Homo sapiens: one gene and its partners. The protein of the gene in region 3 interacts with the protein of the main gene of each other region in a pairwise test. Each region holds a gene or a part of one and is shown on either strand. Other genes may lie near its edges.

Region 1 (3,835 bases), on a different chromosome or scaffold from region 3:
ACTTGAAGTTGGAGGAAGAGTAGGACAGGTCTGGAAAGGCCAGGAGCACGGTGAGGGTTTGGGGAGGAGGCTTGGTGCTTAGGGACCCTGTCCTTTTTTTTTTTTCTCTTCTCACAAGATATTTATTAATTACAAAGGGAAAATAATAACTGTACAGTGGAGAAATTTGGCAGATACTGCCTTAACCAAGGAATTGGCTGATCACTAAGATTAAGACAAACTGTTGTTATGAGTGGGTGTGGTAATGTACCTATAGTCCCAGCCACTCAGGAGGCTGAGGTGGCAGGATTGCTTCAGCCCATCTATTTGAGGCTGCAGTGAGCTATGGAGTGCACTCCAACCTGGGCAACACAGTGAGACCTCATTTCTAAAAAAAGAAAAAAGAAGCCTTCTGATACCATGTACTAAGAAGGACACAACATCACTTTTGTGTTATTCTTGACAGATATGTTTAACTTTCTCTCCTTTCTTTCTTCCTCTCTTTCTTTCTTCTCTCTTTCTTACTGATATAAGAAAAAGCTTTATACATTTAATATATACCTCTTGATGAGTGGCCTTGGCCTTTGAGGTGGGCTGGGTCCAGAACAGCCGGTTGTTCAACGGTATTTCCTCGTGTTTGGTCCCTGAAGGAAGAAAATTGGAAGGGTGTGATGGAGCTCATGGTCCAGTGGGAGAGACAGGAAACGAGTTATATTTCCTATCCTAGATAAGAGTATCTAAAATGACAGGATGTAATGAGTGCTCGGAAGGGAATAAAATGGGTGAAATTGCTGAGGGGGTCTCTTGGAGGAGATGACATTTGAAATGAGATCTGAAGGGGGTGAGGGAAGAGGTTCCAGACAGAGAACAGCTGGTGCAAAAGCCCTGAGGCAGGAAAGACCTTATGTTCAGGAACAGCAGGGAGGGCTTTGTGGCCAGAGCAGGAAAGAGGTTGGAGATAAGATGGGAGATTTGGACAAGGACTGAGTCCTGGAAGGCCTGAGGGCCAAGTGGGGAGCTTGGATTTTTTTTTTTTTTTTTTTTGAGACAGAGTCTTGCTCTGTTGTCCAGGCTGGAGTGCAGTGGCTCAATCTCAGCTCACTGCAGGGAGCTTGGATTTTATTGTAAGGGAGCCACAGGAGGGTTTAAACACAGCAGTAATGAGACTTTATTTCTGCTGGGAAAACATTGCCGTTATTGCCCCCATTTTACAGCAGAGGAAACCGAGACTCAGAACCATGACCAGGGAGTGCTTCCTAAGGTGGTTTCTCCCTCTGGGGTCCAGCCGACGAGGCAGTAGATTCCTTGGGACTTCCTTGGGGGGCACATCTGGTGAGTGGCCAAAGCCCAACACTGAAAACACCGTCTCTTCCACCTCCCCTCCCCAGATGTGAGCCTGGGTTCCAATCCTGGCTCTACCATTAATCAGCTGTGTAATTTTGGGCACGTGGCCTTACCTCTTGGAGCCTCAGTTTTCTCATCTGAAAATGGGCATAATAATAGTAGCCCTCACAGGGTAGGTGTGAGGATTAAATTAGTTAACATTTTGTAGAGCTTAGAACAGTGTCTGGTACAAAGAAAGTGCTCAGATGAGATTTGTTCTTTTCTTTTTTGGCTGTAAGTTTATTCAATGTGAAATAATCCTCTCCAATTTTATTGAGGTGGCTGACCACGTCCACGACCACATCTGCCTCTAAACTGGAATTCGGTTGCTGACCCAGCCCCAGCCTCGGCTTTCTTGTCAGCACCAGGGGGCACAGAACACCGTCTGTAGGTATCTCTGTCAGCTTCCCGTCTTGTGAGTCTTGCAGGTCGCTTACCCTCCAGACCTTTAGGCCGAGGCCTGCCAGTCTCTGGACGGCTGCGGTGTAGGGTGGCAGGAACAATCTCCGGGGGCAGATGTAGGGTGGCAGGAACAATCTCTGGGGGCAGATGAAGGTAATCACGGAGATACTGGCTACCCTCATTGGTAAGGTACCAGTAGAAATGTCTCCAGGCAAACTGTTCCTTCACGCAGCCCCGGGACTTGAGAGACTGCATGGCCTTCATGACGTGAAGGTTGGGCACATTCTTGTCTGCCAGCTCCGGGTGCTTAGGCATGTGGACATCCTTCTTGGCCACCATGACTCCCTCCTTAAAAAGGAGTTCATGAATGGCAATCCGGTTCTTCTTAGGCATCAGCATCTTGGCAGCTGTAGGGTCCGGGGCTGGGGCTGGAAAGGAAGGACTGTTCTTTTCTTTGCTATTACGAAAATCATTATTGTTGCTTTGCTGTTACTACTATTAGCGCCTGAAGGAGCCTTCCCTCCCCATCCCCCATTTCTGCCTCCGTGGAGGGCTAGGCAGGGCTCAGCAGGCCATTTGGAGGATGAAGGACTTGTTGCCCCGTCCCCTGTAAAGTCAGGGACTGGAGGAGGCTGCAGTGCTGAGGGGGAAGGAAAGCTGATGTGCATCACTGCCGGTCTCCTCATGCCCTGTACCCTAGTCCTGGCCCAGCTCCCACAGGCACAGACATGGAACAGGAGCCTCTTCAGCCTGAGTGTGGCAGAGGGCTGGGGCTGAGGCCTGGGGGACAGCTCCTTCTCTGGGCCTCAGGATTCCCATGAAAAAATGGCCTATCAAATGTTCCTACCTGCAGTGAGTTATAGGACTTGGGGTGGAAGAGGTGACAGTCACCTCCCTCTGGGAATTCCTTCCTGCAGGGCTGCAGTCTCATGGGATTAAATGAGGGGGCTCTGGGGATTTAAATGAGTATGGTGCCTGGCACCCCAAAATTCTAGTTATTGTTGTTACTATGACGGCTGTTGTTGCCGATGTTAACCGTTTTCACAAGGCAGCTGAGGCATGCTCAGGCTCAGCCTGTTCCAGAGGGATGGACTCTACACGTGACAGCATGGAGCACCAGGAGGGTCCCGCAGCCTGGTCAGGGACACACAGCTAGAAAGTGGTGGCGTTAAGCCTTGGTCTGGAGGGAAAGTGCGCAGGCTGGACTCCCCAGAGTGATTTTGGGCTAGTGACTCAGCCTCTCTCAGCCTCAGTTTACCATTAGTCAAATGGGGTAACAATAGAACTCACCAGATAGTGATTGTTGGGAAGATTAAAATGGGTTACCCGATACCAAGAAAAACACTTTCCCGTGCCTGGCACAGTGAACATCACCTGGCGGTCGTTCTGAGTGTCAGGGAGCGGGGCTCAGTTTGTCCATCTCTAAGGTGGGTGCGCTTGCCTGCCAGAGCCACGGGGACCCCGCGCGCCAGGTGTGCGGTGGGCGGGTCTCGGCTCCCGGAAGAACTTCCCTGGGTGGTCCTGGAGCGGGTCGGACCCAGTTCCTGAGCCAGGCCAGCTGCCGGCGGCCGGGGCTCGGGTTCTGGCCCCTGCCTGGCTTTCCTTACCCTTTTCGGGTAGTACCTGGACCAGCGGGTTCACTTGCCCGCGGCCGCCGGAAGTTGCGCAAACTCAGCTTGCCGGAGCCCCAGGTGGGCCGGGCCGGAGGAGCGCAGGCCAGCGGCGCGGGCGCAGCCGGGTACGTGCGGACCGCGGCGGGGGGCGCCCAGCCGGGGTAGGGGGCGGCCCGAGCACCCCTCCACCCCAGGACGGCGGGAACGGGGCAGGGATCTACCTTTCGGCTTCAAGAGGACCGCGGGGATGGTGCCGCTCTCTCCCTCATTTGAGAGCCAGGAGGGGCGGCGAGGGGCAAGGGTCACACAGCGCCCTGCTAGCCGACCCCCCATCCCCCGCCACCGGGAGTCCTCAAGCTTTTCCGGAATTGAGGGAGAGCAAAAGCCAGCCTGGGGATCTGAGTTCCCCCCAGCCCTGCCCCGCGGCCTCTGGAGGCTGACGCTGGGGAGCTAGTGGG
Region 2 (3,600 bases), on a different chromosome or scaffold from region 3:
ACAATTCTAGTCTTTTCATTATTTTGAAATACTTACAGTAGCTTATTTTTAACTATAGTTGCCCTGTTATGCTCCTGAACATTACGTCTTATTCCCTCTAACTGTATTTTTAGGCTCATTAACCAACCCCTATTTATTCATTTCCCATTACCCTTCCCAGCTCTGGCAACCATCATTTTACTCTCTATCTCAATGAGATCACATTTTTTTTTTTAGCTCCCACATTTGAGTAAGAACATGTTCTACTGTCCTTCTGTGCTTAGCTTATTTCACTTAACATAATGTCCTCTAGTTCCATCCATGTTGTTGTAAATGACAGGATTTTACTCTTTTTATGGCTGAATAATATTCCATTGAGTATATGTGCCACATTTTCTTTATCCATTGATCCACTGATGGACACTTATCTTGACTCCATACCTTGGCTCTTGTGGATATTGCTGCAATAAACATGGGAGTGCAGATATCTCTTTGGCATACTGATTTCAACTTTTTTTGGCTATATACCCAGCAGTTAGTTTGCTGGATCATATTGTAGTTCTACTCTTAGTTTTGTGAGGAACTTCCATACTGTTCATAGTGGCTGTACTAATTTACATTCCTACCAACAGTGTACAAGGGTTGCCCTTTCTCCACATCCTCGCCACCAATCAATATTGCCTGTCTTTCTGATAAAATCCATTTTACCTGAGATGAGATGATATCTTGTTTTAGTTTTGATTTGCATTTCTTTGATGATTAGTGATGTTGGACATTTTTAGACTGTTTGCATGACTTCTTTTGATATATGTATATAGACCTTTTGCCCATTTTTAATTTTTTTCTAATTAAAAAAATTTTTTGAGATGAAGTCTTGATATGTTGCCCAGGCTGGTCTCTAACTTACGGCCTCAAGTGATCCTCCCACCTCAGCCTCCTGAGTAGCTGGGATTATAGGTGCATGGCACCAAGCCTGGCTTTTTGCCCATTTTAAAAATGTATAATTTGGTTTTTCACTATTGAGTTGTTTGGGCTCCTTATATTATCTGATAATTAATCCCTTGTCAGATGGGTAGTTTGCAAATATTTTCTCCAATTTGTGGGTTGTCTCTTCACTTTGTTGATTGTTTTCTTTGCTCAGTAGAAGCTTTTTAGCTGGCTGTGATCCCATTTGTCCATTTTTGTTTTGGTTGCCTGTGCTTTTGAGATCTTACTCAATAAGTCTTTGACCAGACCAATGTACTAGAGTGTTTTCCCAGTGTTTTCTTCTAGAAGTTTTATAGTTTTATGTTTTAGATTTGATTTAGTCCTTTTTGATTTGATTTTTTTCTATGGAGAGAGATAAGAGTTTCATTTCATTCTTCTGCATATAATTATCTAGTCATCTCCCTTCTAAAGAGAACCCCCAAGTACCAGGCACTCAAGAAGAACATTTTCAAGGCCACAGGCCTTTCAGTATCAATGTATGATTTTTGGAAGGTATCTCATCAGAACTCCTTGAACATTAGAAGGGCTGACACACTATGGCCTACAGGATAAATCTGGCCATCGTTCAGCTCTTTTGTAAATAAAATTTTATTGAAATACAGCCATGTTTATTCATTTATGTTTGTCGTTGACTGCTTTTGCCCTACAATGGCAGAGTGTATGGCTTACGAGCCCTTAACTATTTACCATTTGGGCAAAGACAAGAAAATTTTCTAACCCTTCTGTTAGACCATTTAAATTAGATTTCATTTTAACATTAAGACATCAAGTTATTAATCAATGTGAACTTATAGCACTCAATGCAACCAGAATCCTACTAAGTGCTGTCTGCACAGAACTCCATAAGGCTCCTGTTAGAGTCTCCTCTCAAACAAATGCTTGGCTGCATTGCACCTTGGGGGACCTTCTATTTGCACTTTGCCATTCTTTTTAAATGATTAACAACTTGCCTTCTTTATATTCTCCCTCTCTGCTGCTCCCAACATAGTGTATTCCTATTGCCATATTTGTGTGCAATGATATTTAGAAATTGTTTCTTCGTGTTTGTAAGACTCCGCAGAAATCATCACTGATCCCTCAGGAAGGGTGTTCTGGAATTGTTCACATTCTTCACCATTTACAACTTACTTCTGGAATTGCATATAATCCTGAAAATGTATCATTCACCCAGATAGTCTGGGAAAATGAGTTAAAATAAGATTACATATTTATTCAAATTATGTAGACCCAGAGAAGAAACAGTCATATGAAGGTCCAGTTGGTAAAACTAAAAATTCTCTTAGAAATAATAGATAAGATTTGAATTCTAAAATAAGCTGGAGCTGGGCGCTATGGCTCACGCCTGTAATCTCAGCATTTTGGGAACCAGGGTGGGAGGATTGCTTGAGCTCAGGAGTTCAAGATCACCTTGGGCAACATAGTAAGATCTCATCACTACAAAATGTAAAAAATATTAGCCAGGCATGGTGGTGCACACCTGTAGTCCCAGCTACTTGGGGGACTGGGGTAGGAGGATCGCTTGAGCCCAGGAGGTCGAGGGTGCAGTGAGCTGTGATTGTGCTGCTGCACTCCAGTCTGGGTGACAGAGCAAGACCCTTTCTCAAAGAAATGAATGAATGAATAAAATAATCTGGAAAATGCAACTAATAGAAATAATAGTTTACATTTTAGGCTCAAAAGAAATAGGTATTTTATGGAAGTGATAGCAAGATTTGGAGATGCTGGAAAATATTTTTTCTTAGTTAACATTTGAATGTTTATAATTTTCTGTCAATTCGTAAGAATATGTGATGACATTTATTCTGATGCATATTTGACCAGGTATAGATTTTTCTCTGTAATTGTGAGAAATATACTGTTAAACAGGAAACAGAGCTGATGTTATAAATAATGTTTTCTTGCAGAAATTATGAACAAATAAATATTCTCCTCCTGCTTTTTCCTGTCTAGAACAGTGTCTGGAATATAGTAGATGCCCAATAAATTACTGAATAAATTAACAAATAAAAATTAAGTTCAAGTCACATTCTATATTAATGGGCTTGAAAAATACTTATTTTTTTCACTGGGATTATGATTCCTGAATAAGATTATAACTATATTTTTGGCTTTTGCTTATTACAGAATCACTTAAAATAAGGTTGCTGCCTGGGGAAACATTTGGGCAACATGCAAGGAGGACTGCCCAACCTGATTCTAATTCTTGCGTATGGTTCACTAGTAAGCAGTCATGGAAGAATTCAGCTTCCATATTTATTCTGAATACTTGCTTCAGGTATTCAAATAATATAAGTTGGCTTATTAAAATTAATATGCCAATAAGGATAGACAAACAGATCCATGTAACAGGATAGACAGTCCAGAAACATATGGTCAATTTACATACATGATCAATTCATTTTTGATGAAGATGCCAAGACAATTCAATGGAGAGAGGAAAATCTTTTTAACAAATGAGAGTGGAACAACTGGATGCACATAGGGAGAAAATATCAACTCCCTACTTTCACTACACACAAAAATTAACTCAAGATGGATCATGGAACTAAATATAAAAGCAAAAATGATAAAACTTTAAGAAGAGAATATCTATGATCCTAATATTTGCAAAGATTTGTTAGACAAAACACAAAA
Region 3 (3,408 bases):
CAATACTTAGAGACTGCATTTTGGGAACTTGCAGACTGAGACTTCGCTGTAGGTGTTCTGAAGTAGTAAGGGCCCTGAAGGGAGAAAATGATGTGATTGATGTTCTAGAGTAGATAGCAACAGCCTGTGTGACCCCTGGAAGAGGATCGAGAGGCTAACCCCATGGGATTCATACTGAGAAAGGATTATTATCAGCCTAAAAATGAGGAGGCCAAGATGGATGTTAAAAACCCACCAATTTTTAGATACAAGAGCATTGGTAGAACCAATGGTATTCCATGACCACTAGGGAGTATGTGTTCGGACATTCTCAGAAAAGTTATTGATCATTTTCATAAAGTCCTAAGCTAAAGAACAACTCTTGAGCTACACAGAACTATTAAAGGCATGTCTAATGCCCAAGACTAGTGCCTGTATTAGACCAAAAATGCTCATTTAGACTATGAATTTAATTCTATCAGATATGCTTCAGATTACTTGTGTGCATGCAGTAGTTTGGAAAAGTGCCTTCCTGAATTATAAATATAAAACTGAAAGAGGATGAGAGTGAAGGTGACACTTAGAAACACATGGTTGGACTACTCAGCAATTTATTAATCTCCATTTTTTTCATCCCACCCAAGAAATCCGCCACCAAATATCAACATAAAATGCATAGCCAATCTTTTCATTTTTATTGCTTTAACACACATTTTAATTTTCAGTTGAACAAATTCTTAATGAGCTACAGAGTGACATGAGTTGAAATTAGAATAAAGTAAAATAATACTATATAACCAAAACAAACCCAGTGTTACATATGTGAAATAATGCAATTAAGAGCACAACTAAAAAAAATCATTGATTCAGTTAAACACAAAAGACATGCAGGGTCTCAAACAAGGAGTATTTGGGCTTCTATGTCAATGTCATAGGAAAGAGCTTTTTCTATTTCTGGATAAATATTTCATTTTTATTGATTGGCAAAAATACTTTAAGGATAAATATGGACCAGAAAGGCCTACAGTATTTTTGCCAAATTTTATCTATAGCCAAAGCACAAAACTGCTTTGAACTGGTCATTAATATAATGGGCAGTTCATTCAATCATATTCTGTCTCTGCAGAGCAGGGTGAAATGAACAAGCAAGATAGTCAGAAACACCTCAAACGCCACTAAACTTAAGTTCCCAAGATATTGCTGCAATAAACATGACTATTATGAATTGGTTACTTTTATTTCATCTCAGAAAGTCTTAGTTTAAATCTGCTTTCATCCTAAATTATAATGTGCATATTACCTTCAGAGAGGTCACTACATTTAAGCTGTCAAAGTTGTTGTTGTAATACGACATAAAGTAAATGATTTTTTTCCCCCAAGTTGCTATGAAACTAAAACCATAATCAAAATGGAAAACAGGGGCATCTGGAAATCTTTCTCTAGAAGTTTTAATTCATATTTAATCACCCAACTTGCCCAAGAAAATTTTGTTTTAAGCCTCAATTATTAGGTACTAAATTGGGCATAAAATATGTCTACTTCTGTTTTCAGGAACTTGTTAGTCACGGATATGGAGGAGAAATTATTATGCTACCATTTAGGTCTAAGGAAATTTTCTTTGGAGGGACTGTACCACATGAGAAAAATTTGCAAAATCAACAAATAGCACATCTTAACCCTGCAAGACAGTTGCTGAAATTCTCATATTTATATCCCTATGGACACAATGTATACTAACATGTAAAAATACAGCATTATAATGGTATAAGATTTGGCAAGCAATGGAACATGATTTTTATAGTAGTTTAAAATTAATTTTATGTTTAAATATTCAGGAAGGAGGATAGTTCTGTTTAACTGAGAGCAGGGGCTAGCATCTCTGACTTACTCCTTTGCTTTACTAATAAACACTCCACTACAAATCTGGTGTTAAAAGCCCAGGTCAAGGAAATCCCTTAGTAGAAGCTCAACTCTCAGTGAATACCACAGAGAGGTTCAGGTAATTTACACAGATGGGGAACTGATGTGACATACCTAAGGTTGGCCTGAGTCTGCAGAAGCTGGGCTGTCAGAATAGAAAAGCAAGATATCTACAGGCTTTTGAACTATTGATACAACTATTCAAAGGGGGCTTTAAATGTATAAGGAAGTGTCACAGACCTCCAACACCAAATAACCAGAACTAAAAATAACCATCCTTCTTGAAAATGCCAAGGAAATAAACTTTGGAACTGGGAATATTTCATTTGAAATGAAAACACAAGAACTACTCTGCTAATATTAAGTAGCTTTTGTACATGTTCTAAATTGAAGAAACATTTAGACATAATTGTTAGAAATCTGAGCCTTTTTGAAAGAGAATTTTCTCCTTGAGGGCTTTCCTTTCCTACAGTTGGGAATAGGCACCATCATGACTACCAGATACATAAAAGTGAAGATCCCCAATATACACATCCATTGCTCAAACTAGGAATGTGTGTATTTCTTATGTGGCTCCACCGTAAGAAATATCAGAAAGTCATTTAACTCTCCAAGGCCTGAGATTTGAAAGCCTATCCAGCAACATGGGCAAGAAGAGTCTAGCCTTCAGTCGACTCTAAAAAAGGCCATGTAATTTTAAAACACAAAGTTTACCTGTATTCAGGCACATACTATGCACACGTGTGACCTCCATAAAGAAGGAAAGATGTATTTGCTACAGTTTGGGTAAATTTCAAATACAGGGAAACTTTATCCTACTACAATAATCCTTGGCCAACACTCTGCTGCAATCTATAATTTTAAACACAGTCACATGTTAGCAGTAAAAGAGGAAAGGATTGGTGTTAACAAATGGTATTAACCAACCAATACTGAAGATGGGCTGAAACAGGCATTTCATTGAAGCTTTCTTCTCCATGGTAATAAAAGTAATTTGGCAAAGGTTGTCCTCTTATTTCAGATCACGTAAATAACTTACTTCCCATGTACCTGACACTCTACATTCAGTTAATAGAGGTGAGAATATTCAGCTAATTATATATCTGTCTTGAATGATGTAAAATATATATTAATATTTTAAAGCCAGTGAGACTTTGAGCAAGATTCTTATCCCATTTAACCCTCAGCTTCCTTGTCTGTGGAATGATATATATCCTATAGGGTTATTTGGAGGATTGAATAAGATAATAGTTAGCATTTAACACAGAGCTGGCACATGAGGGCAAGGATCACTATTTGTTTTGTTATATGGTGTATCCTAAGAACCTAGAACAGTGCCTGGAACATCACAGTTGTTTAACAAATAGCTGTTAAATATATGAACGTATGGTAACCCAGATTGGCTCTAATATTGGGAAGAATTTCACCTACCATCAGTCAGGAGAATGGCTGAATTTCTGTTTCTCAACTTGCAAACAATATTACTAAATCATGCTCAAAATATGTGTA

Evidence for each region.
Region 1: the proteins of CTNNA3 (region 3) and FAM110A interact in binary tests that used the Homo sapiens proteins (3 or more experiments, as listed by UniProt).
Region 2: the proteins of CTNNA3 (region 3) and ZNF474 interact in binary tests that used the Homo sapiens proteins (3 or more experiments, as listed by UniProt).

What each region holds. Positions count from the first base shown.
Region 1 is NC_000020.11:837,815-841,649, forward strand, and holds part of FAM110A (protein FAM110A), read left to right. Parts: exon of another isoform or gene 1-2,201; intron 2,202-3,467; exon of another isoform or gene 3,468-3,835.
Region 2 is NC_000005.10:122,132,546-122,136,145, reverse strand, and holds part of ZNF474 (zinc finger protein 474), read right to left. Parts: intron 1-3,600.
Region 3 is NC_000010.11:65,911,872-65,915,279, forward strand, and holds the end of CTNNA3 (catenin alpha-3), read right to left. Parts: 3' UTR 652-3,408; downstream 1-651. UniProt on the Homo sapiens protein: May be involved in formation of stretch-resistant cell-cell adhesion complexes.